Linked DNA regions of Homo sapiens: region 1 is linked to region 2. Evidence: fine-mapped QTL for protein levels in blood plasma. A gene starts in region 2. The other region holds a variant in brackets. All regions are shown on one strand. Distances are between the middles of the regions. Region 1 has its middle 1.6 kb from the start of ORM2. Region 2 holds the start of AMBP (alpha-1-microglobulin/bikunin precursor).

The links. PIP is the chance, under the fine-mapping model, that this variant and not a neighbour inherited with it causes the effect. The UK Biobank Pharma Proteomics Project read protein levels with antibody pairs (Olink). The fine-mapping took linkage between variants from a reference panel, not from the people measured, so its PIPs are less certain.
Region 1: its variant is fine-mapped to the plasma level of the AMBP protein (UK Biobank, PIP above 0.99).

What each region holds. Positions count from the first base shown.
Region 1 is chr9:114,326,841-114,329,668 of GRCh38, forward strand. No RefSeq gene overlaps it. Among named protein-coding and RNA genes, the nearest start is that of ORM2, 1.6 kb to the right of the region's middle. The variant C/T (reference allele first, on the strand shown) is at 1,954.
Region 2 is chr9:114,076,931-114,079,836 of GRCh38, forward strand. AMBP (alpha-1-microglobulin/bikunin precursor) reads right to left here and starts at 1,370. Exons shown (of 10, transcript NM_001633.4): 1 at 1,163-1,370. The coding sequence starts at 1,279.

The sequences.
Region 1 (2,828 bases), 250 kb after region 2:
TACATTATGTGTCCATTTAAAACAATACAAGCAAACAAATGTGAATTTCTAAACTGAGACTACTGTAAGGCCTTTCTCCTAATAGCAAGATTGTAATAAAACTTCAACTAGTCATAAAAAAAAATCCTTTTCTGTTTCTGCTGCAAGCAAGGAAATGAGAGGATGCATTTGAGTAACCTTGAGGCAGAAGACCCTAAACAGGAGTGGAGGTGTGATATTGTTTGGCTCTGTCCCCACCCGAATCTCACATGGAATTTTCAGCCCCATGTGTTGGAGGCGGGTCCTGCTGGGAGGTGATTGTATCACGGGGCTGGTTTCTAATGGTTTAGCCCCACCTCCCAGGTGCTGTTTCTCACAAGGTCTCATTGTTTAAAAGTGTGTAGCACCTCCCCCTTCGCTCTGTCTCTCCTGCTGTCTTGTGAAGAAGGGACTTGCTTCCTCTTTGCCTTCCACCATGATTGTAAGTTTCCTGAGGCCTCCCAGCCATGCTTCCTCTGAAGCCTGCGGAACTGTGAGTCAATTAAACCTCTTTTTTTCATAAACTACCCAGTCTCAGGTAGTTCTTTATAGCAATGTGAGAACAGACAAATACAAGGTGGATGGGGTGGGGAGAGTTCAGGCATGTGGTGCCTATCACAAGGACCTTATTCCAGTATTACCATGGCCATCGGGGGAGGCACGTTGTGGGGACCAGGCTGGAGGCAGGAAGGCCTGAGTGAAGGCTGCTGTGGGCAACTAGGCAAGAGGCGGTTGCCTGGGCCAGGACAGGGCAGGGCAGGGAAGGGCTGGGGTGATGCAGAGGGCTTGGGGCCCAGGCCAGAGGGGCTGGGTGTCTCCATGGACGTGTCCTCAGGGTGCTCACCTGGGAGACCCAGAAGAAGGAGACAACACGTAAGGGTGAGGCTGGTCCCTGGAAATCAGTTGACATCTTGCAAATGTGGAGCCCTGAGGTGGAGCCAAGCCCGAGGCACAGCCCACTCAGTGGCACAAGCCACGAAGGGCCGGCCTCACCCAGACCTGGGGGCTCATGATTGACAGCCTCTTGTTACGTGAGGGAAGCAGCACTCCTCCCGTGGCAGAAAAGTTGGGCCTGAGTTGTTCCATCTATTCCGTATGTGCAGCTGCGTACACCATACAGGGTGATAAGACCATGAGCCTGAGGCTCTGACACCCCAGGGTCCAGTCCTGTGTCCTCAGGCACCACTCCCCTTTGTACCTCCTGTCCCAACAGCCAAGCTCCACAGGGCCAAGACTACAGCATCCTTTGCTCAGCACCCAAACCACTGCTGTGCCCACAGCACGGAGGCTGGGGACACCGAGCTGATGTCCTCAGAAGGCAAGTGGACAGGACAGCCTCTGGGGTCCCACAGTGGCCTGGAACTGAAGGCTCAGAACCTAAAAGAAGTTTCCCCATTTCAATGTTACTTTCAGTAAGACACCATTTTCAACCATACTGAGGAGGATCCGCTGAAAAATGAAACAGAAATGAGTCGTGATGGGCAGGGCAGGGAGAAGCAAGGGAGACGAGAAGTGGGGAACATGGAAGGAAAAGCCACGTGAGGAAGAAACCAGAGGTCAAGAGAAAAAGAATCATGGAGGTAGAGGAAGCAAAAAACACACATAACAAAGAATGTGGACTTTGGAGTCAAACTAATGTGAGTCCAAACCCAGGCTCTCTCCCAAACCAGTTTGGGCAGATGGCCCAGTGGAACCTCACTCTCCTCATCAGTAAAAAGGGGGCAGAGTGAGGGTCCTGAGAGCTAGTACAGGGACTGTGTGAAGTAGACAATGCCCAGTGTTTAGCGTAAGAATCAGGGTCCAGCTGGTGCTCCCTAAACAGCAGCTGCTGTTCACTGTTGAAAGGCGCTCTGGAAGGCCAGGCGCGGTGGCTCATGCTTGTAATCCCAGCACTGTGGGAGGCCGAGGTGGGCGGATCACCTGAGGTAGGGAGTT[C/T]GAGACCAGCCTGACCAACGTGGAGAAACCCCATCTCTCCTAAAAATACAAAATTAGCCAGGCGTGGTAGCACATACCTGTAATCCCAGCGACTCGGGAGGCTGAGGCAAGAGAATTGCTTGAAACCAGCAGGGGAGGTTGTGGTGAGCCAAGATCGAGCCATTGCACTCCAGCCTGGGCAACAAGAGCAAAATGGCGAAACTCCATCTCCGAGAAAAAAAAAAAAAAGAATACTTTCTGAAAGTATTTATTCATACAAATAAAGACTTGACCCATAAGGTAGGAACGCAAATGGGCCACGGAATCACTCATTCCACAGTATACACCGAGTGCCCTTGAAGTGCTGGGCACTGCTCCAGGATTGGGGGCATATTGGTGAAAGAGAAGCAAGCTGCCTGCTCAGATGGCAGGGAATGGGGAAAAACAGGGAGACAGTTTCCTGTTTGAGATGTTGGGAGATGCTTCGAGTAGTATATTTACTGGAAATAGACATTCAACTTGGATGTCCCTTTTTGGAAATGTGCCTGCGTCCAGGGCTGGGTTGGGGCCCCAATGAACTTTGGCTCTGACATAGCTGTTGCCACACTCAGTGGAACTGAATCCATGTTTGCCTTCACCCGGCATCCTTCACCCCAACTCTCCCCGCCACAACATACATCCCATGCCAGCCTGGGGACCCTCAAAGGTGCTTCATCATTAGGTTTGTGGCTGGGTCCTACTGAAGTAAGTCTTGGCACTCAGAGGGATAGGAATTGAATGAAGACATGAGATTCCTCTGCGGGAGGCCTCTCTAGGAAATCTGTGGACTCACACGTTTACTAATGTTGCTGCAGCCCCGCACCCACCTTGGCCTTGGGCAGCCATACTCTAGGGCT
Region 2 (2,906 bases):
AGAGTGGCGTTTCAGGCATCACAGCGAACCCAGGAAGCAGGTGTGCGGCTGGGGTCCCAACCTGCCCTGCAGAAGGGCTAACTCTCTCAAGATGTGGGATCTGTCCATAGCTCCATCAACCACTGCTCCCCAAGAGCTGGAGTCCTGTCTTTTACTCCTCCAATGATGGGGTGCTCCCCACCTTGCAAGGCAGCCCACAGCCCCATGTTAGGAATTATTTCAAAAGTATAATGAACATGATGGGGTCATTCAGGATAGGCCTGCTTCCTCTTCCTCCTGAAAGTGCACGGGACAGCTGAAGGAGCCCTCAGGCTCCTACGGAACAGGCCAATGTGCCCCACACCCTTTGCGTCCCAGACTGCCACAGGGACCTGCTCCTCATTGCCCCTCTGCCACGACCTTTCCTTGTCCCTAAAAGTAAACAAAACCCACATGACACCACAGCTAGAAGGTTCTGAGACCCTTCATACAGACATGGAGACAGCCCCAGGTGGGCAAGGGTATTCTCAAAGCCACCCCGGGATTTAGGGCAGAGTGGGGGCTGGAAGGCAGCTCTGGCACTCCACACTCACAGGAGAGTGTCCTGCCCCAGTCCAGGTCTCTCCTTGTGCCCAAGCCTCTGAATGTCTCCCAACCCTAATCTCTGTCCTGCTTCACCTCTTCCCATAAGCCCCACATGCCCAACCCAAAAGCTGCTGGCCACATGCCCACGCTGTGCCACCCCAGGTGTCTGTCCACAGTCAGGCCAGGATGTGGGCAGGGGACACAGGAAGAGCTAAGGGAAAGATGCCACAGAGAGAGGGGAGTCATTAGAGAAGGAAGGGCTGGGAGGTCTGGGCAAAGCTAGGTGTCTGCACGGGGGCTGCAGGGCAGTGGCAGGCAGGACAAAGCCTTCTCTGGAGCAGGTTCCCATTAACACAAGGGTTCCCCTTGGAGCCCACGAGGACAGTGCAGAAGGTGAGGATGTTTGACTCATAGAATGTCAGCCAAGAGACCCACGGAATGGCAGGGGATAGAGCTGTACCTTCAAAGGATCCCATAATCCCAGATGATCTGAGTGGAAGCCTGAGACCCCGAGACAGGCCGCACTTGCCCAGCAGGGCCCATCTGCCTGGACTCCCCATCACCACATCCACCCTACCACAGAGAGCGGCAGCCTTACCCGAGAGATATTGAAGTTTTCCTGCACTTGGATGTTGTCGGGCGGCGTTGGCACAGGGCCAGCGCTCACCGCCAGGCAGGCGCTCAGCAGCAAGAGCAGGGCCCCGAGGCTCCTCATGGCTATGGGCTCCTCTGCCTTGGTATATCCCACAGGCTCGGTCTAGCAACAGAAGGGCCACCGCCTCCCTGCAACAGGGCAGCTGTGAACTGAGGCTGGGGAAGGGGCCTGTGGCTTGTAGTTGACCTCAGTGTTTGCCCTGCTCAGCTGGGGCCAATTACAGCCCCAAGGACAGCTCCAATCGATCCCTGTAGCCTGGCTGGGGTCAGCAGTACCAAGAGGCCGGGATGGCTGCTTCAGAAGAGGCATTGGCCAAGCACAATAGGGCCCTGGAGCACCAGGATTGGGCTCCGCCCCCCAAAAGTCCCCCACAGAGGGCATGCGAGGATGGGGAGCGACCTGGCCTTTCTGCTGAGTCATGCCATCTGGACCTCACAGCTCTGTGAGCCAGCAGGTCAAGCCTGATTGGGCCCATTTCTCACAGGAAAAAACTGAGGCCCAAGGAGAGGAAGTGACTTGCCAGAGACCTCAGGGAAGTCTATGGGCAGAGCCAAGACCAGAACCCAGGTATCCTGTCTCCAGAGTTCCTTCTCCAGCCCCCAGGCTTGCCCTAGCCTTTGCAAATAATAGAGACATTAACAATGATGACTGTTACGAGCTTCCGTTCACTGAGCACCTGCTATGTGCTGGCTGTGTACCAGGCACTTTACACGTGCCACAGGTGTCCAGTAAATCCCCACAACAAGCTTACGAAGTAGGTGCTATTTGTCCCCTTTACAGGCAGAGGAGTTGAGTCTCCAAGAAGTGAAGTGACTTGCCCAGAATCCCTCAGCCGGGAGTGGAGTAGCTGGGAAAGGCGTGGTAGAGACCATGGACGTGGGAGCCAGGCAGCCTACAGTGGCACTCACTGCTGTGTGACCTTGGGCAAGTCACTTTACCTTTCAGTGCCTTGGTTTCCTCATCTGTAAATGGGGATAATAATAGTTCCTAGCTCCTAGCATTGTTGAGTGAGCACCTGCAATGCGCTAGGACAGTACCCAGCATAGAGTAAGAGCTGAGTGTTTGTGGTGGGTTGAACAGTGCCCCCTCCAGAATCCATGTGCACCCCGAACCGCAGAATGAACCTGATTTGCAGATGTGATTAGTTAGATGAGGTTGAACTGGATGACAGGGGTTTTAAATCCAATGACCGGTATCTTTATAAGAGAATGGTGAGGGAGACTCAGACACAGGGACACAGAGAGAAGCACGGGGAAGATGTGGCGTGACGCCGAAGGCAGAGATGGGAGGGATGCAGTGACACGTCAAAAATCACCAAGGATTGATGGCAGCCACCAAAAGCTAGCAAAAGGCAAGGAAGGACTTTTCCCCAGAATCTTCAAAGGGAACATGGCTCTGCTGAAAATTTGGTCTCAGGTGTCTGACCTCCAGTGCTGAGAGAAGACACATTTCCTAGCAGCCCTAGGAAACTAATACAGTAGTTATTAAACTTAAGGTTTTATTTATTTATTTATTATTTTGAGACGGAGTTTCACTCTTGTCGCCCAGGCTGGAGTGCAGTGGTGCGATCTCGGCTCACTGCAACCTCCACATTCTGGGCTGAAGTGATTCTTGTGCCTCAGCCTCCCGAGTAGCTGAGATTACAGGTGCCCACCACCATGCCTGGCTAATTTTTGTATTTTTAGTA